Linked DNA regions of Homo sapiens. The protein of the gene in region 7 interacts with the protein of the main gene of each other region in a biochemical or structural test. Each region holds a gene or a part of one and is shown on either strand. Other genes may lie near its edges. The genes, in order: ARHGEF16, ABCC4, DOCK4, MAP2K2, SLCO1C1, CYSLTR2 and PARD6G.

Region 1 (4,324 bases), on a different chromosome or scaffold from region 7:
GGCTCATCAACTGTGTGAGAGCTCCACTGGCTCTAGGCCTCAGTTTCCCTGTCAGCACTGTGAAAGGCTTGGGATGGATAATCTGGGAACCTCTGGGCCTCAGTTTCCCTGTCAGCGCTGTGAAAGGCCTGGGATGGATAATCTGGGAACCTCTGGGCCTCAGTTTCCCTGTCAGCGCTGTGAAAGGCCTGGGATGGATAATCTGGGAACCTCTGGGCCTCAGTTTCCCTGTCAGCGCTGTGAAAGGCCTGGGATGGATAATCTGGGAACCTCTGGGCCTCAGTTTCCCTGTCAGCGCTGTGAAAGGCCTGGGATGGATAATCTGGGAACCTCTGGGCCTCAGTTTCCCTGTCAGCGCTGTGAAAGGCCTGGGATGGATAATCTGGGAACCTCTGGGCCTCAGTTTCCCTGTCAGCGCTGTGAAAGGCCTGGGATGGATAATCTGGGAACCTCTGGGCCTCAGTTTCCCTGTCAGCGCCGTGAAAGGCCTGGGATGGATAATCTGGGAACCTCTGGGCCTCAGTTTCCCTGTCAGCGCCGTGAAAGGCCTGGGATGGATAATCTGGGAACCTCTGGGCCTCAGTTTCCCTGTCAGCGCCGTGAAAGGCCTGGGATGGATAATCTGGGAACCTCTGGGCCTCAGTTTCCCTGTCAGCGCCGTGAAAGGCCTGGGATGGATAATCTGGGAACCTCTGGGCCTCAGTTTCCCTGTCAGCGCCGTGAAAGGCCTGGGATGGATAATCTGGGAACCTCTGGGCCTCAGTTTCCCTGTCAGCGCTGTGAAAGGCTTGGGATGGATAATCTGGGAACCTCTGGGCCTCAGTTTCCCTGTCAGCGCTGTGAAAGGCTTGGGATGGATAATCTGGGAACCTCTGGGCCTCAGTTTCCCTGTCAGCGCTGTGAAAGGCTTGGGATGGATAATCTGAGAACACTCGCTGCCCTGGAAGGTAGGGGAAGCCAGCCCTATGCCATCGGGTAGGGTGGGGTTGGGTGGGGACAGGGTCGGGGTACAGGACTCGGGTAGGGCTGGGGCCAGGCCCCATCTTACCTTGCTGATGGCCTTCAGTGCACGGCTGGCAGCCTTGTACCTTTCGGAGTGGCCCTGGGTCTTGAGGCAGAGCGTCTGGATGGACAACAGACATGGGACAGAAAGTCCCCTCTGGCATCCCAGGTGTGGAGGCTCCCACCAACGCCAGACCCCGTGTGGGGCTGCAGGGTGGTCAACAGCTGCCCCCAGGGGGCTCCTGCAGGGCCCCACAGCACGTACAGCCCCTGAACGGCCTCTGCACCACCTGGAGCTCTGCCAGGTCAGGCCAGGTTGAGTGGGAACAGGAGCTAGCACCCCTGCCTGGAACCCTTCCCTTCCCATCCTCGGCCATCTCCATCCAACTTGGGGAATCGTCAGTGGAGGCCCCCTGGCAGCCCCATTTCTGCACATCCCTGGGGCCCCCAGGAGTTTGAGGTTCTGTTTGGCTTGGGCAACCCTGCCATGTGTAGCCTCAGGAAGCTTAGCTCAGTCCTGCCATGTGCGGGGCTGTGTGTATGGGCAGCATGCACATGTGTGAATATGCCTGTGCACCATGTGCATGCATGTGTGTGCATCCACGTGTATGTGTGTGCACCGGGTGCATGTGTGTGCAGTGCCTGTGTGTGCATGTATGCAAACGTGTGCATTGTGTGCACATGTGCATGCATCGGTGCAATGCAGTGTGTGCAAGTGTGCATGCATGTGTGTACTGGCGTGCATCCATACATATGCATTGTGTGCACATGGGCACATACGTGCCTGAGTGCGTGTACACTGTATATACATGTGTGCGTGTGTGTGTACACCTTTCACCCTCATATACCCTCTGCCCTGTGGGCTGGCATCCCACACACACAGCCCATGCTGGTGAGCCTCTCTGAGCCCCTCTCTGCGTCCACAGAACAGGGAGAGTAGGTGCCAGGGACAGGGCTACCACGTCTAGGAGGACTGGTGGGGTGGGGGCTGGGAGGAGGCTCAGCAGGGCTCTGGGTGATGCCAGTTCCAACTCGTCAGTGTGCCTGAACCTCATGAACCATTGAGTAAGTGAACACAAATCCGCCAAGGGCTGGAACAGTTCCCGGCACAGTGAGCTCTGTGGGTGGCGGCGACCACAAAGTTATCCTGGTTAATAAAGCCATCTTAGGATCGTAACTATTACAATATCATAGGCCAAGCCTGGAGGAGAAGGTCACAAGCACGTAATGCTCCATCCGGGGCAGGGCTCTGGCCGTGGGACCCCAGGATGGTATGCCCGGCCCCACCCTCAGGCCGTGGACTTACATCCATCAGGAGGGGCAGCCGGGTCACCCGCTGCATGGGGAGGATCAGGAAGGAGAGCATGGGCAGGCCCCCGCACGCCGGCCGCCTCTCAATCTCTCTCAGGGCCTCTCGGAAGGCGGCGTTGCTGCTTCTGCAAGAGGACAAGGCTGTCCTTCCAGGCTCTGCATGGCCAGCCTGTACCAAAATCAGGCAGGACCTGCAGAAGCTGGGCTGGGAGCAGGAATGTGCTTTGGGAGACCAGGGTGCAGGATGCTCCTGAGCCACCCTGCGGGCCTCGGGGCCGCCCACTCACATCAGCTTCTGCAGCGTGCGCTGTTGGTAGACCTCGTTGGAGCAGTAGGCGATGTAGGGGTGGAAGTGCTTCTCAGCGTGCTCCTCCAGGATGTCACTGATGTCCTCGACCAGCACCTGGGCCTTGTGCCGCTGCTCCAGGTCCTCGAAGAACCTGAAGGCAAGGAGGGGTGAGGAGGGTGCCACGGGCCTGGTGGTCGGGCCCCACGTGTGCACACACAGACATGCATCTGCATGCACACTCACACATACATGGACGTGGCAGGAGCTGAGCTCAGCTCCCAGAGGCAGCACACAGCAAGCACTTGGGGCGGGACCCGGACCTGGGATGCTGGACAGCAGGGAGGGCGGGTGGGAAGTGGTCAGAGGCCTGGGGCTCCTTACAGAGCCCCCTGCCACGATCCCACGCACTGGTGCCGTCCCTCTGTTGTCCAGGGGCAGCCCCAGGGACTGTCCCCAAAGGCGGGCCCATTTGGACCTCCTGTCCTGGTGCCCTGTCCAGTTGGTGCCCTTCGCCCTTCAAGCTCCTTCCAGCTAAAACGACTGGGCCTCCACACAGGCCCGGGCCCCCGCTGCCGCACCAGCTTGCCCCTGGGAAGAAACTCAAGGACGGAGACTCAGGGGACAGGCACAAGAGCAAAGAGGGGCGATGCCTGGGGCCACCCCTTCCAAGGATGAGTCCCAAATCCGAGGCAGCTCTGCTGGTCAAGCTCCCAGCTGGGTTCATGAACTGTTTACTTTCACTAGGTCCCCCACCCCGTTCTGAGGGAACAGTCAAGGCCGGGGGGGGGCCAGCTGTGGGCTCTTGGCAGACTCCCTGGAAGGGGCTACCAGCCCCTCACCTCCCCATGACCCAGGCCTTGGTCCAGGGTGATCAGGATGAAGGGAGTTAACACTTGGTCAGAGCTAGGCCAGGGCTGCCAGGATTCTGCCCCCATGGGCGGCCACGGCCACCAAGGCTGGGCTTGGCTGGACCCACGATGGTCACCTGCTGTGTGAGGCGGTGGCTGGAGCCTCGTCCATCCTGCAGACCCTCAGAGCACCCAACCCGAGACCACATCCGTGTCTCCAGGCCGCCGCCACAGGAGGTCCTCCCAGCCCAAGAGCTCTGTCCTTCGGAGGACTCCCTTACCCAGCGTGGAGGTGGGCGGGAGTCCCTCCTCCTCTGCTCACGGGGCCCGACTGGGCCTGCCACCCACGCAGGAGCCACGCTTCCTGCAGGGAGAGTGTCCTGACAGCTGCTTGCCCTTGAGAATCCCCAGCAGATGGAGCTGCAGTCCCCGTGGACGAGGACCCAGCAGGTCATGGGAGGCCTCGGTTGCTGGATGAGCAGGGCCACGACATGCGTACGTGCCCAGGCCGGCCAGGCCGGTCAGCAGCTCATATGGGTGACTGCAGGTTCTGAGAAAGGTCTGGGAGAGCCGCCCACCAGCCGCTTACCCCAAATAGCGATGATTCCCCAGACAGTTCACTGTGAATGCCAGGAGCTGTCGGGGGCCCAGCTGGGGGAGGAGGCCGGAGCTTCCCGCCCCAGGGCAGCAATCTAAAGCCCTGAGGAGGTCAGAGGCAAACATGCAGCTGCCTGAGGCAGAGGGGACCGGAGGACACAGAGCTCAGAGAACACAAAGCCTGCCTGGCTGGGGGCAGAGCTGGGGGAGGGGCAGCCGCTATCCCAGACCCCTCCCCCTCCCCCAGCCCCATCCCATGCTGAGTCAGAGGTTGGGA
Region 2 (4,324 bases), on a different chromosome or scaffold from region 7:
TATTATGTTCGTGTAGGATGGCAGGCTAAGGATAATGCCCGTTGATGGAGTTAGGAATTTGAGCTGCTTTCAGAGGTTAAATAACAGTGACATGTCATCTGAAAGGGAAATATTTGTTATAGAAGTTACCCCCACTGTATTTAGCATTGTGAATGAAGAGATGTTAGGAAAGCTCTTTTAATTTCTATGTGAATAATGGATCCTCATTCATGTCTTAATAAAATGTATGATTTATTTTATTCATTTAAAAATGTCTTGTGTCTATGTAAAACAGTGGGGGATTAGTTGCTTATTTAGATTAATTATCTTATGTTAAAATATAATTTGTGTTTTCTTGCAATTCAATTATTCAAGAGGTTTTCCACATGCAACTTAATACGGTATTTTTAAATTCTTTAAAGCTACTTGGGCATTTTCTACAAGGAAAAGGTAAATCATTTCTCCTATTCCTTGTTAATATCACATGTTGGTATCAAAACATACCACCTTTTTTAGATTATGGGACATAATGTAAGTAATAAGATTTGGAATATGGAGAAGATCAACTACACTTCATGATTATCTATCCTACTTCTGAGTTTTTAATAGAACTTGCAATTGAATTAGAGCCTAGAATGAAATTGTATTATACACCTGATTTTTCTTTTCTGTGCAGTTTCCATTCAGTGAGAGAAAAATAAACTATTTTAATCCTTCTTTGTCAATGTATTTTGTAAATACATTATACTTATGTAGAATCCAGATGCTTTATGGAATAAATTAAGTAACATCTTTATAAACTACCTGGCTTGCTTTAGCAACTATTGAAGAAAATGCAGAGATATGCTGTGTTCTCTAAGTGATATTTCTTTATTTCAGGTTTAACTGTAGCTACCGTTCTTTTTGGCATAGCAAGATCTCTATTGGTATTCTACGTCCTTGTTAACTCTTCACAAACTTTGCACAACAAAATGTTTGAGTCAATTCTGAAAGCTCCGGTATTATTCTTTGATAGAAATCCAATAGGTAAGTCTGACACCAAGTTTCTCAGTAAGTATGTCTTGTTAACAACACATTTAGGATCTGATTACATTTCCATCTTTGAAAATGGAAGGGATGCTGGGAAGAAAATCACTATGCATGTTGATTCATTTTCCACAAGAAACTTCACTGATATTTTTCTCCTACCAGAGAAAATCTAAATATGCGGGGGGAGGGGGGGGCATACAATCTTTTATTCCAATTTATATGTGTGTGGAAAAATAAATGAATGTTCACTTTGCAGAATGCTTTAGGAATCCATTTGCTGTGAGGCAAGTGAAGCATCCTGCATTCCCTGTAAACATGTTTAAATGTAGTTGAATAGTTGCTAAACATTGGCTGTGTTTACATAGTGTTAGGTTATGCCATTTTTCAGAGGGATCTTTGTAATCAGGAATGCTCTGACGTGAGACAGGCCGTGCATTTCTTTCTTTCATTGGGAAACCCGTTCATTTCTGGAAACACAGGGTTTTTGTACATACCCTGACTGTGAGGTTTCCCTGAAAGATAATATGTGGTTAATTAAAAGCCAAGATTGATAAAATGTAAACTCCCCTTCAAGAACAGTTTCTAACTCTGTGGTTTTGAAGTAGACTTTTGGTTCTATAATAGAGACTTTGTTGAACCTGCCATATAGATCTTCAGTAGCTTGTTTCCTAGGTATACCCAACTATACCCAGTATTTTCCAAGTGGTTGATGCCTCTGCACTATGCGCTTCTTATCTGTCCTGCTTCTGAGGCTAGCCTTCCTGACCTGGGTTCCTAGGGAGAATTAGTTGTGCCTATAAGTCCCCACCCTGCTCAGTTGAGTGGACTTGTGGGGAGGCCTGAGTGACATTGTGCAAATGATAACTGCCCTCATAGAAGCAGGGAGGTGGCCTGGAGAGAACACAGGCACAGCTTTGGCCTGGCCATTGACTAGCTTTTTGACCAAGGCCAGAGCACATAGGTGCTATTACACAGGCAAGTCTCCAAGCAGATGCTGTAGTTCAAAGTGTGAACTCAAGCTAACTACCTGGGTTCAATCCTGGTGCTGGTTACTAATTGTTATAGCTGATTATAGTTACATTCATATTCATGTCCTAGTTACTTAATTTTTCTGTGTCACAGTTTTCTTATCTGTAAAATAGGGATACTATTCATACCCACCAAATTGAAATCTTATGAGAATTAAGCATGTTAATACATTCCTAGCACATGAAACTGGGTGTAGCAACATGGTCAGTGCCTAACGAATGTTAGTGACAATGAAGCCATGTATCTGTGAACTGAATCACCTTCACTGTGGGGTGGAAATTACTCCTACCCTCTCTGTTTTACATGATTTTTGTGAAGATTAAAGAAGACTGTTCTGGAAAGCATCTTGTGTAGATTTATTTAACAAATACTTTTCAGTCCAAGCACTGTGCAACGTGCAAGGATTTGTAAACTGCAGAGACCACACAAATATCGGTCTGATTTCAGCTGTTATTAGAAAGTCATTGGAGGACCTCTGCGCTATTACAGCTGTAACGTTGCGCCACTTTGCCAGTTAATTTGAAACTACAGTCATAACATTTGGAGCATTAAGTGGGACTGCCTTTCTGTTATCACAGGCCTCGGAATGCTCATGACTACCATTAACCAGCCTCTCCATGTTTGAGACCTGTGGGCTTCTCCTCATGCTGATTTATTTATTATTCAGGGATTTGGGACCCAGTCTAAATCTTGGAGGTGACTAATCTTACAGCAGCACCTGAGTGTTTATCTTGCTTCCTCCTCCTATATCTATTAGCATGACTTTATTCCTTCAACAAAATAGAAGCCCAAATAAGTACCCCAAGAGAGGTCTACTTTGTCCAAAATGTTTAGAGGTCATGAATTATTTACTTTTTTTAGTGGTAGATGTTGAAAAAATGTAAAAATTAAAAGTTTTTTAATGGTAGAATTAAAATTTTCATTTAGATAAAATTTTTGCACTTTTTACAATGGTGAAGGATACACAAAATCTGTGAATTACGCCTCAGAATTCACATTACTGATTGTATGCACTTCAATAGTTATATATATATATATATATATATATATATATATATATATAAAATTTATTTAGAAATAAGGTCTCATTCTGTTGACTAGACTGGAGTGCAGTGATGTGATCACAGCTCACTGTAGCCTTGACCTCCTGGGCTCAAGCGATCCTCCTGCCTCAGCCTTCCAAGTAGTTGGGACCACAGGCCTGTGTCACCATGGCCAGCTAATTTTTAAAATTTATTTTATTCTATTTTGAAGAGATGGGATCTCACTATGTTACCCGGGCTGGTCTCGAACTCCTGTGCTCAAGGGATCTTCCTGCCTCAGTCTCCTCAAGTGCTGGGATTACAGGCATGAGCCACTGGACCCAGCCGGCTTTATAATATAAATAAAAATTCCCCTCTATGATAGTGAGGCAGGCATGCTCGATTTTTCAGTACTCTTAAACATACATGTTAAATATGTATAAGTATCTGGCATGATGTTGTGCCCCCTGAATTGCAGAGTGTTCTTTGAGTGGGGTAGAAAGACTGGGAAGCATGTCTGAATACTTAGTTATTAAAAGCAAGCTCTTAGAAGAGCCCCGGGGGAGTTTCCTATGAGCTCAGCATCCTGATATTCTCCCAGGTTTTAGAAAACTTAGGAAACGGGGAGGACCTCTGCTGGCATGTAGTTTCCAGTAAGCTCACCTTGGGATGGTGACTGGCACAGAAACTCCAGGTGATTCACACCGGGGGTCTGGCTAGACGTCCCTCATATCCCCATCTCCAGTGCCCTTGTGCTGGAATATTCTCAGTGACTCTGGTCTGCAGCATAGAAATGTCTTCTCCATTATTTTATGTCCACTCCCACCCCAGTGTGCCATCCCCCTCATCATGCTTCTGCCCAGATCCTCATCTGTGTGGTTAATGAATGGGCGACCCTTGCTGGTGACTCAGAGAACCAGACCTTCTGGAAGGGTCCCCCTGACTGCCCCACTGTGGTCCCAAGTTCACTTATTTGGATTTAGGGAGAAGGGGAAGGTAAACCTGGAAGGTCTGTGTTTCTTCTCAGCAGCGAAGTTTCTGTTTCTTTTTTTTTTTTTTTTTTGAGACGGAGTCTTGCTCTGTCACCCAGGCTGGAGTGCAGTGGCGTGATCTTGGCTCACTGCAAGCTCTGCCTCCTGGGTTCATGCCATTCTCTTGCCTCAGCCTCCAGAGTAGCTGGGACCACAGGCACCCACCACCACGCCCGGCTAATTTTTTGTACTTTTTTAGTAGAGACGGGTTTCACCGTGTTGGCCAGGATGGTC
Region 3 (4,324 bases), on a different chromosome or scaffold from region 7:
ACAACTGGCATTAGCATCCCTATCTAGACCTAAGATGCTATGTTGCAATATTCAAGCTAGAGAAGTCTACAGCAATCCTCCTTCAAGAGAAAGACGACAGGTCAGCTAAGACAAACTCCACTGGTAAAAGTGGAGAGTCGTGAGGAATTTTTTATTTTGTGCAGGACTGAAAGTTAATGCCCTTGCCTTTTATAAGTCCTTTTGCCATTTAATCGTGCTAATACATTTTCACTAAGTTTTTTTTTTCTTCACTTAAGCTATTAATTTAATACTGTCTGTATTGATTCCTGAATTCTTGCTAATGGGGCACAGTCATTTGTGCCTCATTAATACTTCAGCATTTGCTCTTGTTCAATGACAAATTTTATATAGGAAACTATCAAGAAAGGAAGCGCAAAATTCAAGTAAACATTTCTTCTGGAGCCTCTTGCTTAATCTAGCTGATTGGAACTCTGAAGCAAATTGCACCTTGAAAAGAAATACAGTAGATACCACGGTGTCAGGGTAGTAAGGGATTTAGCTACCAATTCACAAAATAGAATTTTACGAATGTAGACAGCAGTCAAACAGCAAAAGCAACCTTAAAGAAGTATTTTGTTTCAAGAACAAAACAATTTCCAGTCCCAAGCTTTGCAACCCCTTAAGTATACTGTCTTGCTCGCCTGCTTGAACTTTAATTCTGATGATCTGCACTGATAAACCTTGCCTTATTTACAGAAGTCTTCTAAAATAAGGACCACTGTGTTAGGATGTGCACTGACTTAATAAGCTTTCTCCAAGTATCAAGTATTCAGTAAAAACGATACAACATTGTCACACATTGTATCGTTTGACAATATCGTATTGGTTTTAAGATTAAACTATATAAAAAAAAGTGAACATAAAAAGGTACAAAAGGAGTCTTTATCACTATTTACCACTTCCAAATGAGAAACGTTTTAATGAAATTCAGCCATACTTCATTTAACATCTGGCGTTTTAGATCAGCAACTTTTAATATTGTGCAACATGATATTTAATAAGCAAGTTTTAATTCCATTCATCGAAGGAGCTGAGTAAGTTATTAAAGTGCCTACACTAAATGTCTTCTCATCATACTTCTTATTTTGTAAACGGGCAAAGAATGCATCGCAGGTACATAGAAAAGTGACTTATAACTGAGAGACCTTGCGGGGCAGGGGCCTGGGCCGCGGGCCGGGGTCAGTCCTCCGGGCCCCATTCTCCAGGTGGCTGGATCGCGCTGCCAGAGGCTTGGGGGGCAGCGCGGGCGGCTCCGACGTGACGGGGATGGAGAGGCTGTGAGGTAGCGGGACGGGGCGCCGCAGAGTCCGCTCGTAGACGCTGTACGGGGGCGGAGTCTTGCTCTCCTTGCGCACTGGCTCCTCCCCGCCGTAGCTCGGCACGGGCACCGGCACTGGCACCGGCAGGGGGGCCGACTGTTCATTCACCTGATTTTCAAAGCCTGAGGTTTCCGACGTGCTGCACCGGCTGAGAGAAGAAATCCCACTGCTGTAGCTGCCCGACAAGACAGGGGAGTTGGAGATGAGTCCTGGCGAGTGGTACTCCACTGGAGAGGGGGTGAAAGACTGCACAGAGCCCTGCTCCGGGGAGAAGGAAACGAGAGGGAGACACAGCATTGAGTCGTGAACGCAGATGCGCTGAAATGTACGCCCCGACGCGGAGGCCCCGGCCCCCAGCACCCCCAAAGCCGGCTGCAGCAGGAGATGCAGCCTTTAAGGAGGTGATTAAGGTAAAAGGCCATTATGGTGGATCCTAATCCAAGCTGACTGGTGTCCTTATAAGAGACATTTGGACACACAGGGAGACGTCAGGAATGCGACACACACAGACCTTGCAGGAAGGGCGGTCTGCAAGCCCAGGAGGGAGGCCTCGGGGAAACCAAGGCTGCCACGCATTGATCCTGGACTTCTACCTGCCAGAATTGAGAAAATACATTCCCAGTGTCTAAGCCACCCAGTTTGTGGTATTTTGTGAGGGAAGCCCGAGCAGACGAATACACTCACACTCAAATTTGAGTGTTGTCCTTTGTAGCACTGAAAATGCACACCAGACGTTTATCTGCGAGGGCCACCAGTCCTCGAGTTCAGTTCACCGCCCAGTTTACTCCTTATCATTTTCAGATAGAGGAGAAAGGAGCTGGGCATGGTGGCTCACGCCTGTAATCCCAATACTTTAGAAGGCCGATGCAGGGATCACTTGAGGCCAGGAGCTTGAGACCAGCCTGGGCAACATGGCAAAACCCCATTTCTACTAAAAATCCAAAGGGTTAGCTGGGCGTGGTGGCTCATGCCTGTAATCCCAGTTCCTCTGGGAGGATCACCTGAACCTTGGGAGGTTGAGACTGCAGTGAGCCGTGGAGCCACCAGTGCACTCCAGCCTGGGCAACACAATGAGACCCTGTCTCAAAAAATAAATAAAGGTATCCACCAAGATAATCTGGAGGCACACATTAGTCCTATAGTTTGGAAGAGAGGGAACTGGCCAAAAACCCCAAAAACCTAAAAACGCCATAAAACCTTTGGGGGCGCTATTCACTTTCCCAGCTCAGCAGGGCATGCTGCAGGCCAGGAGCCAGGGCCGCTGAGCACACTCAGCTCAGAAGACCCAGAGAGCTCAGGAGGAGGAGCAGAGGCACCCGAGGTTCTGCACCTGATTTCTCCAGCCATCACTCCAGACTCCAGACTCCTGAGCTGAACTGGCGAACTGGCAGCCCTCGGGGCTGTAGCCTGTGATGTGAGCTGTTTCCTCAGCAGTTTTTTAAAAACCTAATTTAGTTAATTTTTAACATTTCAAATTTCACATGAAACTCCAGAATTCTGGCAGTTCATAAAGAACTAGGAGTTCTGGCCACAATGGCACACATTCTCTTAATAGAGATAATCTTTAAAAGCTGAGAAGGGCTGTCCCTTTTCACTTTGCCAGTCCCCACTATGCCACGTGGGGACTACACCCGGCCTCCTTCATTTGTGTCAGCTGTCTGGCCCCATTTGGCATCTGAGTTTGTTACTTTCCCAACTAGTATCCCAAGGAAAACGAGTCCTAAGATAGATGCTCTGTGAAAAGAGGGTTCCGCTGGGAAATGCTGCACACTGTATACTCCTTGTGTATATTCAAAACATATTCGCATTTTCAAGGCTTAGAATAAAGGAATACAAATAATTTTGTTCAGTCCAGTGTTTTCCAAACTTACTTGACTATAGACCTTTTCTCCCCCGCTTATTACATAATGTCCTGGAAAACTAGTGTTCTATGGTATACACTTTGAGAAATGCTATCTTCTTAAGCTAACTTGACTTTGGTTTCTCTTTGTAAACAAAATAACGCTGGTAGATACACATCCTGTCATTTAGTAGGAGCCTAACATTAAGGCCAATTAAGAGTTCCCAATTCACTGCTACCTCTGTCAAAAGTTAGACCTGAAATTCAAAATATGGCAGGTCAGCTCAGTCTTCGCTGTAGGGTTAGACCCACAGTTTGATGGCTGGCTGGGGTAAAAAAAAAACCCAAAACCCCACTAAACTCTTATCAGTTAAGGCAGCACACTGCAAGGCTAGTAACATGGTAGCAGTGTGCCCCCTAATGTAACCCAGGAGGTATAACACAAATGTTCGATCTATGTTCTCTTCCTTCAAACCCTACATATAAAGACATGGCTTCGAACTGCATATGGCCAGTAAAAATGTACACAGGTCTGCTGAGAGACAGTATATACCAGCTTGCTAAGACTATTTTATAGCTATTCAAACATTTTTAGCTCTTGGGTTCTTTTTAATGTTTAAGAATTAATCTCTTAAGACTTATTTTCTTACTACCCAACAAAATTTAAGTTGAAAAATACAGATGATAATTCCATAGCAACGTGTGGGAGCTCTGTGTGAGTAAGGGCAAATGTAAAAGTGCGGAAAAGCCATGTTGCTTTCCTTTCTATCACATCGAGGTGACAGGCTATGACTTCCAGAGTGAATGCTGTCACAGGTACTTCATAATAACAGCTGCATTACAGAATGAGAACAAAACGAGCAAATCACTTGCACTTACCCGCGAATTTCTACGTCAGAAATTCTGGCAATGCAAGGGAATCACACTTCTTTCAATTTTCTCCATTTTGCGGGGGGAGGCGGGTTGTTTTCCCGTTTCTCAATTTCTATCAGCAACTATCGTTAGCACCACAGATGCACTGGATCGCAACCTGCCCCTATGTGTTTGTAGAGGCTAATTTGTCTTTTGCACATTAGCTAGAACTAGCTCATCACACAAAGGACATGGAGCGTGTAAATCCTAAGTCACTCAGGTACAAAATCAT
Region 4 (4,324 bases), on a different chromosome or scaffold from region 7:
TCCCTGCCACCTAGGGCAGAAAGGCCAGGCCGAGTAGGACCAGGGGCCAGGGGGTGCATGGACTGCAGGAGGGATCCCAGTGACGCCAGCCCAGGTGACGGTAACCTCGGCCCCTCCCCACAGCCTGTGGTCTCCTCGCCACTGTGCCGGGCATCCTGCGGAGGGCCTGGAAACGAGTCATCATGGGTAGGCTGGTCCCCGGGTGTGGCCCCACATCCATGTCATAAATGATGAAACAGAAATTCCATGTCTTGCCCAAGGCTGCCTGGCAACAAACCTGGGGACCAAAACCCCCAAATGCCAAAACCCCAGGCACTGGGAGCCACCCAAGGTGCCTCTTCAGAGGCAGAGGCTCCGGACACACCTGCCAGGCCACCCCCAGGACAGCAGGGGTGACAGGCCAAGTTCCCACTGCCACCGTCTGGCGTGCGTCTCTTCTGTGCTCAGCAGAGAGGAAAGTGGAACTGAGGCTAGAGAGGGCGGGCTGGAGGAGCCTGGAGAGGCTGGCTGGGGAGCCTGGATTTCCCCACCATGCTGCTCCAGGACTCCTGCAAAAGCCCAGCCTTCCCTGGGATGGCTTTCATTCACATGGGTGGGAGGAGCCGGGGGAGAAATCCTGGGACTCAGGGGTGCCCGGGTTGCCGCTCTCTGGCCACTTCTGCCCAGCTAGGCTTGGAGAGAAAGGCCGAAGGCAGTTCTAGAAAACCCAACACGCTTTGAGACCTCTAAAGCATACACGTGACTCCATCCACCAGCTCCAGGCTGAAGACGCAGACACACAGGGTGAGAGGGCAGGTATGGCCAGGGCTCAGACAGCCCAGGAGGAGGTGCCAGGACGGGAGCTCCAGTGAGCCAGGGCCAGGTGGAAGCTGCTTCTATTCTCAGTTTTTATCAATCTACCTTAAAAGAATTACTTAAAATGAGGCCGGACATGGGCTGGGAGCGGTGACTCACGCCTGTAATGCCAGGACTTTGGGAGGCTGAGGCAGGCGGATCACTTGAGGTCAGGAGTTTGAGACCAGCCTGGCCAATATGGTAAAACCCCATCTCCACTAAAAATAAAAAAAATTAGCTGGGCGTGGTGGTGGATGCCTGTAATCTCAGCTACTCGGGAGGCTGAGGCAGGAAGATCACTTGAACCTGGGAGGCAGAGGTTGCTGTGAGTCGAGATCGTGCCACTTCTCTCTCGCCTGGGCGAGAGAGCAAGACTCCTCAATTAAAAAAAAAAAAAAAAAAAGCCGCACGTGGTGGCGCACACCTATAATCCTACCACTTTGGGAGGCCAAAGCAAAAAGAATGCTTGAGCTGAGGAGTTTGAGACCATCCCGAGCCACACAGTGAGACCCCATACCAAAATCAGCCGGGCGTGGTGGTGCACGCCTGTAGTCCCAGCTACTCAGAAGGCTGAGGTGGGAGGATCCCTTGAACCTGGGAGGTCAAGGTTGCAGTGAGCCGAGATCACACCACTGCACTCCAGCCTGGGTGACAGAGCAAGACCCTGTCTCAAAAAAACAAAAACCAGAAAGAGACCAACGACTCGAAAGAGGCAGGGTGGCGAAAACCAAACAGACGCACCAAACGCAACCCTAAAACCCCTGCTCCCCAGCACAGCTCCTTCCGTCTTCGTTTCTCCTGGGGCCGCAATCAATGTTTGTTTAGTGAGAAAATTCAAAGAGCCTCTCCCCGGAGATGAGGGCGGGCGGAGCGCTGTGCTGCAGCCTCAGGAGCTGGTGGAAGACGCCTCACAGGAGCATCGCTCTCTCTGCAGCCGCCTTTCTCCACTGTGACATCGGGGCCAGGTCACTCTCTGGGGTGGGGCCGACCTGGGCACTGCAGGGCGCTGAGTAGCGTCCCTGGCCTCCATCCACTCCACGCCAGGAGCATCCCCCAGTTGTGACAACCACACACATCCCCAGACAGTGCCAGGTGTCTCCTGGGAGGGAGAACTGCCCCTGGTTGAGAAGGGCTGATCTCCAGCTATAAAGACCAAAGTCTGGCAGGGTAAGCAATTTGTCTGAGTCACAGAGACAGGATGTGGTGCAGGGGGTATTGCAGCTGTGTACTGCTGACCCCAAATCTCACTCTGTGCATGACCATACACGTCTACCGTGTGTGTGTGTGTGTGTGTGTGTGTGTGTGTGTGTGTGTGTGTGTGTGATGTTTAAAATGGTCTTGTAACTGTAATTTTGTTACGTAGGTAGTAGGTGAACACATTTTTCTTTCTTTTTTTTTTTTTCCTGAGGCGGAGTCTCGCTCTGTTGCCCAGGCGGGGGTGCAGTGGCACCATCTCGGCTCACTGCAAGCTCCGCCTCCCGGGTTCACGCCATTCTCCTGCCTCAGCCTCCTGAGTAGCTGGGACTACAGGTGCCCGCCACCACACTCGGCTAATTTTTTGTATTTTTAGTAGAGATGGGGTTTCACTACTGGTGTTAGCCAGGATGGTCTCGATCTCCTGACCTCGTGATCCGCCCGCCTCGGCCTCCCAAAGTGCTGGGATTACAGGCTTGAGCCACCGCACCCGGCAAACACATTTTTCTTATAAAAAATTCAAATGAGGATAAATAACCTGGACGCCGCATCACTTCCACCATTCCCCCCTCAAGTGTGACTTATATTGTTCCAGATCTTTCTTCATCTCTCTCTTTCTTTCTTTCAGGCAGGGGTCGCCCAGACTGCAGCATAGTGCTGTGATCTTGGCTCACTGCAGCCTCCACCTCCTTGGTTCAGGCAGTCCTCCCACCTCAGCTTCCCAAGTAGCTGGGAGTACAGGCGCGCCACCATGTCCTGCTAATTTTTTGTAGAGACGGGGGTTCCTCATGTTGCCCAGGCTGCTCTCGAAGTCCTGGCTGAAGAGGTCCTCCCACTTCAGCCTCCCAAAGTGCTGGGATCACAGGAGTGAGCACCTGGCCCCCGCATCTTGCTGTGTATTTGGAAACACAGACTCGGGACTCACTCTCTTGCCCAGGCTGTAGAGCAGTGGCTCAATCATAGCTCACTGCAGCCTCGACCTACTGGGCTCATGGGATTCTCCCAAAGCACTGGGATTAAAGCATGCTTGCCCAGCCAGAGTTTAAAACAACATCGAAATGGGCTCATGTCTGTAATCCCAGCACTTTGGGAGGCCGAGGCAGGAGGGTCACTTGTGGCCAGGAGTTCAAGACCAGTCTGGGCAATATGGAGAGACCCTATCTCTACACAAATAAGCAAATAAATTAGCTGTGCATGGTGGCTCACGCCTGTGGTCTCAACTACTCGGGAGGCTGACGTGGGAGGACAGCACCAGTACACTCCAGGCTGGACAACTGAGCAAGACCCTGACTTGAAAATACAATAAACAAATGAATGGGCCAATGCTATGTTTATTTTATTTTTCTTTTATTTTGAAATGGAGTCTTGCTGTCGCCAGGCTGGAGTGCAGTGGCATGATCTCGGCTCACTGCAACCTCCGCCTCCCGGGTGCATGTGATTCTCCTGCCTCAGCCTCCTGAGGAGCTGGGACTACAGGCGTGCGCCACCATGCCCAGCTAATTTTGTATTTTTAGTATAGATGGGGTTTCACCATGTTGGCCAGGATGGTCTTGAACTCTTGACCTCGTGATCCGCCTGCCTTGGCCTCCCAAAGTGCTAGGATTACAAACGTGAGCCACTGCACCCAGCCCATGCTATGTTTATTTTCTACAACCACCCCTCCACTACATGAATAGTGTTGTACTGTGGGGATACTCCCATTCAGTACACCATTGTGGATTTCACTTTGCCACTGCAAAGCAGCCAAATATCATTCTTTAATCACTCCCTTACTGATGGACATGTCCAGTTTCCATTACAGTAGAACAAGACGGGCATTCTTCAGCAGATAGGACGAGACCCCCAGAAAGGCCAAGGGGCACCTCTACGAGGTCCGTAAGCCACTGGCTCTCCTTTCCCCATCCCATGAGGCCCCACTGTCCACTGGGTTCTTGCCCCGAGTTATCCAGTAATAGGTTCAGACCCCAGGGAAGCAGCCAGCCCCACTGTTCCTAAGTTCCAGTCACCAACAAGTGCTTGCCATTTTATATAAATACATCACTGGGCACGGTGGCTCACCCCTGTAATCCCAGCACTTTGGGAGGCTGAGGCGGGAGAATCGTTTGAGCCCAGGAGTTCAAGATTAGCCTGGGAAACATAGTGCCATCCCATATCTACAAAAAAACTTGCCGGGCGCGGTGGCTCACGCCTGTAATCCCAGCACTTTTGGGAGGCAGAGGCAGGCGGATCACGAGGTCAGGAGATCGAGACCATCCTGGCTAACACAGCGAAACCCCGTCTCTACTAAAAATACAAA
Region 5 (4,324 bases), on a different chromosome or scaffold from region 7:
ATAAAGTATAGGATGTGATGACTGAAATTACAAGGAAATACAGAAACATTTGGGGACATCCATTGTCTTTCTGACATCTTCCCACTATGCCTGAGGAATTTCCGGATTTAGAAGCTGCAATTCCCACACAAGTGCAGTTGTAAAATATCTGTAACACGATAGGGAAAAGTCCAATTATTTCAGTAACATTTAAATAAAGTTAAAGACAGTTATGTTAAAAATGTTTACCGTAGCCATGCATTATGTAAACAATGAGGAAATATTCTTTTATTTTTTTGTATTACAGTATATTGAGCAAAGCAAAATCTATATAGATACAACATTTCATTATCTAAAGAGCAGATGACTATCTACAAACTACTAATCCTGTACAACAATCTCCCAGCAAATCCTGCCTAATCTAACCATACCTTACCTCCTTCGCTACCACTTCCAATGCTAAGTAACCATGATTTCTTGCCTAGATTGTTACAATGCTCCCTTTATGCGCAACTTGTTTCCAATCTTATCTAGCTAGTATCTGCTTTCCACCCAGTAAGTAAAGTGAACCTTTAAACATGGCAGTCAGACTGCATCACTACCCTCAACCTGCCAGTGGTTTCTCATCATACTTGCATGAAACCCCACATCCTTATAACAGTTTACACTTTCTCCATCATGTAGCACCTGGATGCCACTCTAATCTCACCATTCAGTGATCTTCCCTCTCTTCTTCTGTGTAAGCCACACACATGACCCTTGCAAAGGCCCCATTTTGCCCTTTCCAAACATCCCCTCAAACCTGGCAAGTTCATCCATGCCTCACGGCCCTGCTATTTTCTCTGCCCGGGCAGCTCTTCTCTTCGGTGATTACACAGCTGGCGTCCATACTTTAGTTCTCCGTTTAGAGGTTTTAATAGAGACCTTCTATGACTATCCATTTAAAAAAAAAAACAAAAAAAAACAACTCCCATCTCTCCATCTTCTTATTCTAATGTATGTCTTTTTTTTACAGTGCTTCTTACTACCTATCAGGATATCCTGTATTTACTTATTTTTAAAACATACTTTCCCAACAGAATGTAACCTCCATGAAAGCAGAAACTGCTGCTTTGTTATTATGCAACTGGGGAATGGAATAGACTCTCATTTTAGGCATTTGATAAAACTTAGTTAAGTAAATGGGAACAATTTGAGGATATGACATAATTTACAGTGGCTATGAGAAAAAAATAATTCTGGTGCATAAAACTCAACTAAATTTTGACTGAAGAGAGACAATTTGTATAACCCCTCAATAGTTTATTTCTGTAAATTTTATTTATGAATGCATATATATAATGTTATCATTTTTAATCACAAAAGAGTTTGTGAGTTTTTAGACCATAAATAAAGCTGGCATTTACTTTTCTAGAAAGAGTGGCAATATAGATTTTTTGTAATGTCAAGTTGAAACCTTTGAATCTTAATTCTGGTCGCTCACTAGATAAATGAGTTAAGCAAGTCCTTTGTATCTCAGTGCCTCAGTTCTCACATGAAGAAAATACTGAAAATAATGCAAATTATTTCAGGACCATGAGATTTAAATGTAATTTTGTTCTTTTAACACCAATCTTTAACCTTTCCTTGTAATGTCTTTTATAAATGGTAGCTCTCATTACAAAAAAACCTTCATGCAGCTGTGAGCAAAAATAACAGTAGCTGAAAGAAAAATAACAAAGGAAGAAAGCAAAGAAAAGAAAAAAAGAGAAGCATGAAAACATGTTTCAGATGAGTAGGTAGTCTTATTCATTGTTGCTAGAAACCAATCCTTTCTGCTGTAAATAAGTCAAAATAATAATACAATGAACAGAGTAAATTAACAAACTTAACTGTATATCTGTGGATATACAGCCTAAGTATTCATATCCAGTTGATAAGGATATATAAATAAATGAGATACATGGGTGGTCTAATTTTCTGCCCTCTAGGATTGTCAAATAAAGGCAAATTTAATCAGTCACAAATAGAAAGCAGTCTCAGAGAGCAAGGATAAGGAAGAGTCTGTTTGGGACAGGAATGGAAAGGTGTGCTGAGAAGGGTGAATCTGTTAATGATTGAAGTACTTTACATCCTTCACAATTGCTTTCTGTTAAGGATTGAATATTTTCCCAAAATTCATATGTTGAAATCCTAACCTTCAATGTGATGGTATTTGGAGTAAAGCATTTAGGAGGTAATTAGTTCATGAGGGTGTAGCCCTCATGAATGTGATTTTAGTGCCCTTATAAGAAGAGACAGGAGACCTGTCTCTCCCTGTCTGCTCTCTGCCATGTGAGGATAAAAGGTGAAGATGGTCATCTGCAAACCAGAAAGTGGGTCCTCACTAGGAACCAGTTCTGCTGGCACCTTGATCTTGGACTTCCCATCATCCAGAACTATGAGAAATAAATGTTTGTTGTTTAAGCCACCCATTCTATGGTATATTTGTTATAGCAGCCTGGACTGACTAAAATAGATTCCTACCTATATTTCCTACCTCATCTCCCTCTTCTGCCCTATGGAAACCCTCCATTCCAGCCCACCTGCCCTTTCATTATTATACAAATTGGCTTGATTTTCCAAAGTTGTCCTAGAACCATCAACCTCCTCATTATCAGATCCCTGACCCCAAGGTCTAGAATCTCTGGAGCTAAGCCTCCTAATACTGGCCTCTATTTGTTCATTCCCTAAAACCTCCAAGGACCACGGATCTTAGGGCCAGGGGACATGGATCTGAAAGCATATCTTATTATGATGATCATACGACAGACATTCTAATTCAGGGCTAACACTTCTTATAAGCAAAATGAGAGAAATAGACTACATAATTACAAAATCTCTTCCACCCTATTTGATGACTCTAATTCTCACCCTAATTTTTTCAGCAACTCCAGTACCACTAGGAATGGTTATAACATTTTCTTTTTCTACAAAAAAGGACCAGGCAGAGGTAAGAGGCAAGCCTCCTACTAGTAGTGGTCTGCTGTGAGCCCCCATAGAGTTTTGTTGTTTATATTGTAACAGGACCATCGCCATATACTTGAGAGGTGATTTCTTACAATATTTTTTCCACTCCTGTTGGAGGTTTGACAACCAGCAAGACAAGCTGATACATATGTGATTCCATTTTCACCGCACATGGGTTCCCATTTTGTCTCTGAACATTTGCATCTTGAGTTGCAATCTGAAAAGAGAGCTCGTTCATGATAAGAGACAGGTTTGGTTCTGAAAAGAAATATAACAATATAAAATATTACCTCTTAGCAGGTAGCACCCGAATATTTTCAAAAAATCAATGTTCTTGAGTGATATAAATGATACTATGAACAAAATTTGCCTTTTAGAAACACAGTTGTCATCAGAAATGGCAGCTTCTGGTCATGAAATGTGAGTTTACTAATAAACAGCTTTCTCTTGAAAGTTATCTTTAGAGGTTTACAAATTCACATGATGTCCAGTTCTTAGCTTATAGCTTTCAGTCTACAGCCTCTAGGATCTTCTAATATACTTCTGTGCAAAGGTGTATAAAAATAGCTAACAAGGTAGAAAAGTAAACTTTTAGAGCAATTTATGACACTACTTCAATGCATCACAGGTGGGGTGTGTGTGTGTGTTGTGTGTGTGCAAATTTCATTCAGAATTGTTGTCTAAGTATGAGTGGAATGGATATTACTAATGGTCCAGTAAAAGGAAAAATAGCCAATCAGTTATCAGTTAATTCTCTTTCAGTGTTTGCAGGAGTTACATGTCCTCTTGCATGTGTGTAACCAACAAGTGCATTCCCAGTTCATTCAACCTTTCTCCTGTGTATCCTCCCAGTGTATAGTGCTCTTTCATATCTTATAGCATCCTTTCTTACTCAAATTCACAAGTAAGTTCAATGACTTACCCATTTATTTGTTGATAAAATTTTACTGGAAGCCTACTAAGTGCTAGCTCCGGGAGAATAGGAGATGGTTACAAACATTAATGAGACAAAATTTGCACCCCCCCCCAAAATTGGTTTTTTTGAGTTATTTCACAAAATTGTGATTGCATTCTTTCTTTTCTCCTTCATTTTTTTTTGTTCTCTGCCATTCGCTTTTATATTTATCCTTCATCTCTCCCAGTATTCTCTCTCCCTCACTTTTTTTTCTGTCACCTGAATGGCCTAATCCTTCTGCTTTTATCCTTTTTTTTGCTATTCATATTCCTCTACTCTTCTCAAAAGGAACTTTTGCAATGGTATGTCATTTCTATCTGCACCATATGTGCCATTCATTGGCCCTCCATACTTCATTTTTTCTGCTCCTTATTTTCAAATTTATTTATTTGCTTATTCCTC
Region 6 (4,324 bases), on a different chromosome or scaffold from region 7:
GGAGTCTATTAAAGAAGGAAACAAGGAGAATTAGTAAAGACAGAGGTGGGAAGAAGGAGGTCTGAGGTAATGCTGTACATCTTGTTCTTGAGGGCAGAGGTGTCCCCTGGCATGTTTGGATGCCAAACTTCTGCTAGGTTTCAATCCCTGCTACATCCCTGGGGATAAGTTGTTCTCTGGGAGATAACAGTAGATCTGCCAGAAAACTCTTCACCAATGGCCCAAAGTGCTGACTTCATGGTTAAGTGGCATGTGGAAATAAATGGCATTCAGAAAGCAAAGGGTCACCAGCCTGGTGGCCAATGAAGTGACTCATACTTTGGGGGCTCCTTGAGGCACTTTGTGGGTGACCGGGTAGAGGAAAAATCAGTGCAGCAAAATTCTCCAAGGCACTGAGTCCATGAAAACAAGGCCCTGTGAGATTCATTCCCCTCCATCCCACTTCCTCTGGAAGCTCAGAGACCAGCTCCGTTTCACATTCAAAATATGTCACAATTTCAGTTCCTTTTATCTGTGTTTCTGTTTTGATCTCCAAGAACTTAATTCACCTTGACTTTTTGAAAAAAAAATTCTGAAAGCACAAGACCGTTCTTGGAAGGCCAGGAAGGTCTAGAAAGCTTGGCATTTCTGACATGACATTTGGAGCCTGTTACAAATAAACTCTGAGTTGTCAGCTTGGGTCTCAAGAGTAAACTCTCAGTGATACTTCCCTGTTCTGGAGGGCCGTGTTAATTCAGCACTCTGAGGCCTCTGGGATTTTGAGGAACAAATGTGTTGCAGAATCCTCTCTGCACAACTTCAGAGAGCTTATTCTGTCAGCCTTTGCAATAACAACAGCTAACACTTAATATGGCACTTTCTCTGGTCCAGGCCCTGACCTAAGTGCCATTCATGTATTATCTCACTTCATCCTTACAACCCTATGAAGTAAGAACTATTATTAGCATTACCCCTTTCTTTTATTTATTTATTTAAATTAATCTTTTTTTTTAATTTTTCTTTTTTATTGAGACAGTGTCTTGCTCTATTGCCCAGGCTGCTCTTGAATTCCTGGGCTCAAGCGATCTTCCTGCCTCAGCCTCCCAAAGTGCTAGGATTACAGACATGAGCCACTTTGCCTGGCCGCATTACCCCCTTTTACTGATAAGGAGCTGACGCCGAGGGAGATAAAGTCATTTTCCCATGGTCATAGAGGTAGTCCGTGAACAAATCAGGATTTAAATCCTGAGGTTGCTGCTCTGTTACTGCTTCCCTGCAGCTGAGAGCAACACCTGTCATGCTTCTCACCATTTTTTATCATTAAATCATTTCTCAGCCTTGTTTTTATATATTTACTAGTGCCCTGCAAAAATTTTGCCTCCTTAATGCTTGTTCTAGGTCCCAATTCTGAGGTTTAATAATAATAGTTAACATCACTGAGCGCTCACCCTGTATGAGACAACTCACATTTATTATGCCATTTATAGATGGCATAACTGAGGCTCAGAGAAGATAGGTCACTTCTGCAAAATCTCACAGCCAGTAAGTGGCAGATGTGGCCTGCTACCTTACACCAACTGTCTCCTGTGAACACTTCTATTTATTTTAATTTATTTGTCAAATTGACAAATAATAATTGCATATTCATGGGGTATATATTGATGTTTCTATACATGTAATGTATATTGATCAGATCAGGGTAATTAGCATATCCATCATCTCAAATATTTATCATTTCCTTTTGTTGGGATCGTTCAATATCCTCCTTTGAACTAGTTGAAACTATTTAATACATTATTGTTAATTAGAGCCATCTTACAGTGGTATAGAACATTAGAACTTATTCCTCTCATCTAGTGGTAATTTTGTATCCTTTACCAAATCTCTCCCTTTCCCCCACTCTTCCAGGCCTCTGGTTTCCTCTGTTCTACTTTTTACTTCTATGAGATCAACTTTTTTTACTATTCCACATATGAGTGAGAACATATGGTGTTTGACTTTCTGTTTCTGGTTTAGGAAATACAATGGACTTAACATAATGTCCTCCATTTCCACCCTTGTTGCCACAGATGACAAGATTTCATTCCATTTTATGGCTGAATAGTATTCCATTATGTATATATACCACATTTTCTTTATCCATTCATCTGTTGTTGAACACTTAGGTTGATTCCATAACTTGGCTATTGTGAATAGTGCTGCAGTAAACATGTCAGTGCAGACATCTCTTAGGCAAACTGGTTTCAAAGCTTTTGGGCAAGTACCCACAAGTGAGACTGATGGATCATATGGTAATTCTACTTTTAGTTTCTTGAGGAACCTCCATATAGTTCTCCATGGTGGCTATACTACTTTACAGTCCCACCAACAACACATGAGTTCCCTTTACTCCACATCCTTGCCAACATTTGTTTTTTCATCTTTTTGATAATAGCCATCCTAACTGGGGTGAGATGATACCTCATCGTGGTTTTGAGTTGCAAAATCATCACTGATGATTAGTGATGTTGAACATTTTTTCATATACCTGTTGACCATTTGAATGTCTTCTTTGTGAAATGTCTGTTTAAATCATTTACCCATTTTAAAATTGAATATTTTGCTGTTGAGATGTTTGAGTACCTTGTATATTCTGAATATTAGTCACCTGTCAGATTAGTAGCTTGCAAATATTTTCTCAAATTCTGTAGGTTATCTTTTCACTCTGTTGATTGCTTCCTTTGCTGTGCAGAAACTTTCTAGTTTGATAATCCCATTTGTTTATTTTTGCTTTTGTTGCCTGTGCTTTTGAGGTTTTATTCACAAAATCATTTCCCAGACCAGTGTTCTGAAATGTGTGTCCCATGTTTCCTTCTAGTAGTTTTTATCATTTTGGGTCTTATATTTAAGTCTTTGATCCATTTTGAGTTAAATTTTGTAGAGTGAGAGGTTTGGGCCTAGTTTCATTCTTCTATAGACATCCAGTTTGCCCAGAACCATTTATTCAGGAGACTGTCTTTTCCCCAATGAGTATTCTTGGCACCTTTGTCAAAAATCAGTTTGCTGTAGATATTTGGATTAATTTCTGGATTCTCTATTCTGTTCCATTGGCCTATGTGTCTGCTTTTGTTAGTAACATGCTATTTTGGTTACTATAACTCTGTAGTGTATTTTGAGGTTTGGTGGTGTGATACTTCCAGCTTTGTTCTTTTTGCTCAGGTTTGCTTTAGCTATTTGGGTTCTTTTGTGGCTCCATACAAAGTTTAGAACTTTTTTCTATTTATGTGAAGAATGTCATGGGTATTTTGATAGGAATTGCATTGAATCTGTAGGTTGCTTTGAATAGTGTTGTCATTTTGACAATATTAGTTCTCCTCCATGAGCATGGGTTGTCTTTCCATTTGTTTGTATCCTCTTCCATTTATTTCATCAGTGTCTTGTAGTTTTCCTTGTAGAGGTCTTTCACCTCCTTGGTTACATTTCTTCCTAAGGTTGTTTTTTGTTTGTTTGTAGCTGTTGTAATGGGATTGCCCTCTTGATATTTTTTTTCCAGCTAGTTCATTGTTTGTGTAGAAAACACTACTGATGTTTGTATATTAATTTTGTTTCCTGCAACTTTATTGAATGATTTATTAGTTCTAAGAGTTTTTGGTAGAGTCTTTCTATATATGAGATTATCATCTGTAAACAGGAACAATTTGACTTCTTTCTCTTGAATATGAATGCCATTTATTTATTTCTCTTGCCTAATGACTCTGACTAGGATTTCCAGTGCTATATTGAATAAGAGTGGTGAGAGTAAGCATCATTGTCTGTCCCTGTTCTTGGAAGAAAAACTTCCAACTTTTTCTAATTTAGTAAGATGTTTGCTGTGAGTTTGTCACATGTGGCCTTTGTTATATTGAAGTACTTTCCTTCTATACCTAATTGTAAGAAGTTTCTATCATGAAGTGAGCTTAAATTTTATCAAAAGATTTTTCTGCATCTATTGAGGATCATATGGCTTTTGTCTTTCACTCTATTGATGTGATGTATGATGTTTATTTATTTGCATATGTCGAACCATCCTTGCATCCTGAGATAAATCCCACTTGATCATGGTGTATTGTGTTTTTGATATGTTGTTTGATTTGGTTTGCTAGTATTTTGTTTGGCATTTTTGCTTCTATACGTATCAGGGATATTAGCCTGTAGTTTTTTTTGTTGTTGTTGTTATGTCCCTATTCAGTTTTGGTATCAGGGTTATGCTGGCTTCATAGAATGAATTAGGAAGAATTAATTCCTTCTGCTTCAATTTTTTGGAATAGTTTTAGATGAACCGATATGAATTCTTCTTTAAAGATTCAGTAAAATTCATCAGTGAAGC
Region 7 (4,324 bases):
GTTCTTGTGATGGTGAGTGAGTGAGTGATCACGAGATCTGGTTGTTTTAAAAGTGTGTAGCACCTTCCCCCTCTTTTAGTCCTGCTCCTGCCATGTAGGATGCCTACTCCCATCTTGCCTTCTGCCATGAGTAAAAGCTCCCTGAGGCCGTCCCAGGAGCAGATGGTCACCATGCTTCCTGTGCAGCCTGTGGAACCGTGAGCCAATTAAGTCTCTTTTCTTTATAAACCACCCAGTCTGTAGTCTTTCTTTACAGCTATGTGAGAATGGACTAATACATATACCAACTTCCAAAGCAATTTCCTTGTATCACTATATGGCTTTCGTTTAACTGAATACATAAGATAATTTAATCATGTCTAATGCAACTAGTAAGAGTGTTTTTGAATTTTATATAATTCTCACTTCAGTATCACCGCAAAGGGATACAGCTCACTTTCACCTCAGGAACGCCAGGCCTCCCTGAAACAGCATAGGCTAAATGTTAGTTCTACAATGTTTCAGTCTTAACTTTATTTAGCAACTAACCTAAAACACATCTCAGTTTCTCAGTACGTTCAATAATTTTCTCAAAATATGTCTTAGCATGTTAACTTGAAATGAAAAATAAATTCAGACTGTTTCCTGAGAGAAAACAAGGTTGATTTGTGTTTAATGATGAGGCTGACTTTGCCAACCCAGCTATATGGTAAACATGCTTCATATGTTGAATGAGCTCCAAAGTTTTGACAAAAAGAGATGTGAAATGTGACATGACAAAAGCATTGTATTTAAAAATCATATTGGTATTGGGTACTAAATATTTTTATTTCCCCATGATATCAGATTAAACAAGAGTCCTCTAAATGAAGGAATTAGCAGGTATAATTCATTGTCACATACTTCTTGGTAAAGTCCTTCCAGTATACTTACCAGAAACTGAAACAGTGAATGGCTCTAATGACCAGGCAATAAACCTTGCAAGTCAAGTAGTTTCCAATTACTTGCTTTTGACAAAATATAAAGTTGTCCTAACTGAACTGTCAGCTAATTATCAAAATAATTTTGAGAGACCACCCTATTATTTTTGTCACACAACCTGTTGAGAGTTCAAAGAACTGAGCTGTGCTTAGGGGCCTTCACTCTCATCTACCTGAGTGTGCAAATGAAGCTTCACAGTGTTGACACCCAACAATAAAAATTGCAAAACAATTAGTGCCAGCCTACCTCATTTATCAATAAATACTTAACAGTAAATGAAAGATTCTTCAAATGTTTATTTGGATGGCTAGTGATTATCAATAAATACTTAACAGTAAATGAAAGATTCTTCAGATGTTTATTTGGATGGCTAGTGATTATCAATAAATACTTAACGTAAATGAAAGATTCTTCAGATGTTTACTTGGATGGCTAGTGATTATCAATAAATACTTAACAGTAAATGAAAGATTCTTCAGATGTTTATTTGGATGGCTAGTGATTATCAATAAAGACTTAACAGTAAATGAAAGATTCTTCCGATGTTTATTTGGATGGCTAGTGATTATCAATAAATACTTAACAGTAAATGAAAGATTCTTCCGATGTTTATTTGGATGGCTAGTGATTATCAATAAATACTTAACAGTAAATGAAAGATTCTTCCGATGTTTACTTGGATGGCTAGTGATTATCAATAAATACTTAACAGTAAATGAAAGATTCTTCAGATGTTTATTTGGATGGCTAGTGATTATCAATAAATACTTAACAGTAAATGAAAGATTCTTCCGATGTTTATTTGGATGGCTAGTGATTATCAATAAATACTTAACAGTAAATGAAAGATTCTTCCGATGTTTATTTGGATGGCTAGTGATTATCAATAAATACTTAACAGTAAATGAAAGATTCTTCCGAAGTTTATTTGGATGGCTAGTGATTATCAATAAATACTTAATGTAAACGAAAGATTCTTCAGATGTTTACTTGGATGGCTAGTGATTATCAAATTGCACAACTATGTTCCAATCACCATTTGATAATACTTGTTAATAACTCAATCTAGAAATTTACTATAACAATCTATTTCATTTATAATTGTGGTAAAACACACATAAAATTTACCATATTAGCTCTTTTTAAGTGTACAGTTCAGGAGTGTACATTCACACTGTTATGCACCCACTCTCTAGATTGCTTTTCATCTTGCAAGCTAGAACCCTATACTAGTAAACAACTTAAAAATATTTTTAACAAATAGAGCCCCAGGACCACAAGAGAAAAATATTTGAACTTCAATTTATACATATTTTTTGTTGCAGAGAAGAGTAACAGGGGTAACGAAGCATAAGTTATTAGAATAAAATATTAGGACAAAAATCTCTTGAGGGAGTAATGGGAAGAAGAAATCAAAGAGAAAAAGAAACCATGTATAATTTCTGATTAGAAAAGAGCTCTTCAGAGTCAGAAAAGTGGCAAAAATAAGAGTCTGTTTATCCTATTTTAAAATGCATGATAGTGGTATCAAATCACTGCAGCATTTAGATTTCACTGTATCAAATCACTGCAGCATTTAGATTTCACTGTATCAAATCACTGCAGCATTTAGATTTCACTGTATCAAATCACTGCAGCATTTAGATTTCACTGGCTGTATTTAGAAGATCATGCACCAAAAACTTTATTTGTAATGGAATATTTACAGCATGCTGTAAATTACATCCTTTGCAAACTATTTATATTTACTAAAAAAAATTCAGGTACCAACTTAAAAATATATCATCCCCTTTTATAGTGGTAGTTTTTCAAAATTCTTTCAGGCTTCATGTGACATTTGAAGACCACAACATCAGAGTTCAGGGATCACTATGAAAATGCCTAAACCACCATTAAAGGTTAGCAGGAGACTTGGCACTCCCTAATATTTTCATTGTTTTTCATGTGGGTGTTTGTTCGTATAGCAGGACTTACAACAGGACGGCTGCTTCAACATCTGCTGGGCTTCATTCATTCACCTACTATCCCGCACATAAAATGCCTCAAAGGGAGCCATCCTATCCCGGGAGGTCATCTCCTCACTCCAAACCAGTGACCAATTTCAATGAAAGATCAATACTCAAGCCAGGCATGGTGGTATACACCTGTAGTCCCAGCTACTTGGAGGCTGAGGCAGGAGGATCACTTGAGCCCAGGAGTTCCAGGTCAGCCTGGGCAACATAGCAAGACCTTGTTTATGTTAAAAAAAAAAATCAAATTTCCTAAAAAAGATTGCATTGCTGTGCCTGGCCTAGGTTAGTAGCAAGTTAATAGATAACCCCATCAAAAAGTCCACATTGGCCAGCGATGGCTGATGTCTGTAATCTCAGCACTTTGGGAGGCCAAGGGAGAGTCCGAGACCAGTCTGGCCAACATAGTGAAACCCCATCTCTACTAAAAATACAGAAAAACTTAGGCAGGCGTGGTGGCACACGCTTGTAGTCCCAGCTACTTGGGAGGGTGCTCCAGGAGAACTGCTTGAACATAGGAGGCAGAGGGTGCAGTGAGCCAAGATTGCACCACTGCACTCCAGCTTGAGTAACAGAGTGAGACTCCATCTCGAAAAAAGAAAACAAACAAACAAACAAAAAAAAAAAACACACCTTTCCCTCACCAGTACCCTGACACTATGAGCTGTATCATTTCCCCTTAAAAGGACCCATGGTTCCGAGGCAAAATGGCTAATTCCAGGTATATGGCAAGAAATGTATGTAAGCCTATGAATCCCATGTTTATTTTTAAAGAATAAGATTATTTGTTATTGGGAAATACACAGGTGTGCAAATTCTTATTCTTCAATGCTTCTAGCTAAATGAACCCTCATTCATTATTTAGATAATGATTATTCTATTTTGTAGTTGACCCCAACTATTATTCCTACAACAGGATAGTAAAAAACGGGGTTGGGGGAGATTTCATCTTTTAAAATTATTAAAAATTATCTCAAATACAAAATACCAAGATCAATAAGCAAAAGCGTATCAGCATCTGGCTAGGTGTGGTGGCTCACACCTGTAATCCCAGGACTTTGGGAGGCCAAGGCAGGTGGATCGTTTGACTCTAGGAGTTTGATACCAGCCTGGGCAACATGGGGAAACCATGTCTCTACAGAAAAGTACAAAAATTAGCCAGGCGTGGTGGCACACGCCTGTAGTCTCAATCACTTGGCAGGCAGAGGCAGGAGGATCGTTTGAACCTGGGATGTGGAGTCTGCAGTGAAGTGAGACTGCACCATTGCACTCCAGCCTAGATGACAGAGTAAGACCCTGTCTCAAAAAATACAAAGTGTATCAAAAGCTTCTAAATGCAAATCATTTTTATTTTC

Evidence for each region.
Region 1: the proteins of PARD6G (region 7) and ARHGEF16 interact in a test that uses a peptide from one of them, tested with the Homo sapiens proteins (one large-scale study listed by IntAct).
Region 2: the proteins of PARD6G (region 7) and ABCC4 interact in a test that uses a peptide from one of them, tested with the Homo sapiens proteins (one large-scale study listed by IntAct).
Region 3: the proteins of PARD6G (region 7) and DOCK4 interact in a test that uses a peptide from one of them, tested with the Homo sapiens proteins (one large-scale study listed by IntAct).
Region 4: the proteins of PARD6G (region 7) and MAP2K2 interact in a test that uses a peptide from one of them, tested with the Homo sapiens proteins (one large-scale study listed by IntAct).
Region 5: the proteins of PARD6G (region 7) and SLCO1C1 interact in a test that uses a peptide from one of them, tested with the Homo sapiens proteins (one large-scale study listed by IntAct).
Region 6: the proteins of PARD6G (region 7) and CYSLTR2 interact in a test that uses a peptide from one of them, tested with the Homo sapiens proteins (one large-scale study listed by IntAct).

The regions. Positions count from the first base shown.
Region 1 is NC_000001.11:3,471,507-3,475,830, reverse strand, and holds part of ARHGEF16 (rho guanine nucleotide exchange factor 16), read right to left. Parts: intron 2,754-4,324; coding exon 2,601-2,753; intron 2,439-2,600; coding exon 2,309-2,438; intron 1,124-2,308; coding exon 1,049-1,123; intron 1-1,048. UniProt on the Homo sapiens protein: Guanyl-nucleotide exchange factor of the RHOG GTPase stimulating the exchange of RHOG-associated GDP for GTP. May play a role in chemotactic cell migration by mediating the activation of RAC1 by EPHA2.
Region 2 is NC_000013.11:95,157,870-95,162,193, reverse strand, and holds part of ABCC4 (ATP-binding cassette sub-family C member 4), read left to right. Parts: intron 1-858; coding exon 859-1,005; intron 1,006-4,324. UniProt on the Homo sapiens protein: ATP-dependent transporter of the ATP-binding cassette (ABC) family that actively extrudes physiological compounds and xenobiotics from cells.
Region 3 is NC_000007.14:111,727,123-111,731,446, forward strand, and holds part of DOCK4 (dedicator of cytokinesis protein 4), read right to left. Parts: intron 1,599-4,324; coding exon 1,152-1,598; 3' UTR 1-1,151. UniProt on the Homo sapiens protein: Functions as a guanine nucleotide exchange factor (GEF) that promotes the exchange of GDP to GTP, converting inactive GDP-bound small GTPases into their active GTP-bound form. Involved in regulation of adherens junction between cells.
Region 4 is NC_000019.10:4,103,048-4,107,371, forward strand, and holds part of MAP2K2 (dual specificity mitogen-activated protein kinase kinase 2), read right to left. Parts: intron 160-4,324; exon of another isoform or gene 1-159. UniProt on the Homo sapiens protein: Catalyzes the concomitant phosphorylation of a threonine and a tyrosine residue in a Thr-Glu-Tyr sequence located in MAP kinases. Activates the ERK1 and ERK2 MAP kinases.
Region 5 is NC_000012.12:20,736,008-20,740,331, reverse strand, and holds part of SLCO1C1 (solute carrier organic anion transporter family member 1C1), read right to left. Parts: intron 3,226-4,324; coding exon 3,060-3,225; intron 149-3,059; coding exon 1-148. UniProt on the Homo sapiens protein: Mediates the Na(+)-independent high affinity transport of organic anions such as the thyroid hormones L-thyroxine (T4), L-thyroxine sulfate (T4S), and 3,3',5'-triiodo-L-thyronine (reverse T3, rT3) at the plasma membrane.
Region 6 is NC_000013.11:48,660,128-48,664,451, forward strand, and holds part of CYSLTR2 (cysteinyl leukotriene receptor 2), read left to right. Parts: intron 1-4,324. UniProt on the Homo sapiens protein: Receptor for cysteinyl leukotrienes. The response is mediated via a G-protein that activates a phosphatidylinositol-calcium second messenger system.
Region 7 is NC_000018.10:80,205,540-80,209,863, forward strand, and holds part of PARD6G (partitioning defective 6 homolog gamma), read right to left. Parts: intron 1-4,324. UniProt on the Homo sapiens protein: Adapter protein involved in asymmetrical cell division and cell polarization processes. May play a role in the formation of epithelial tight junctions. The PARD6-PARD3 complex links GTP-bound Rho small GTPases to atypical protein kinase C proteins.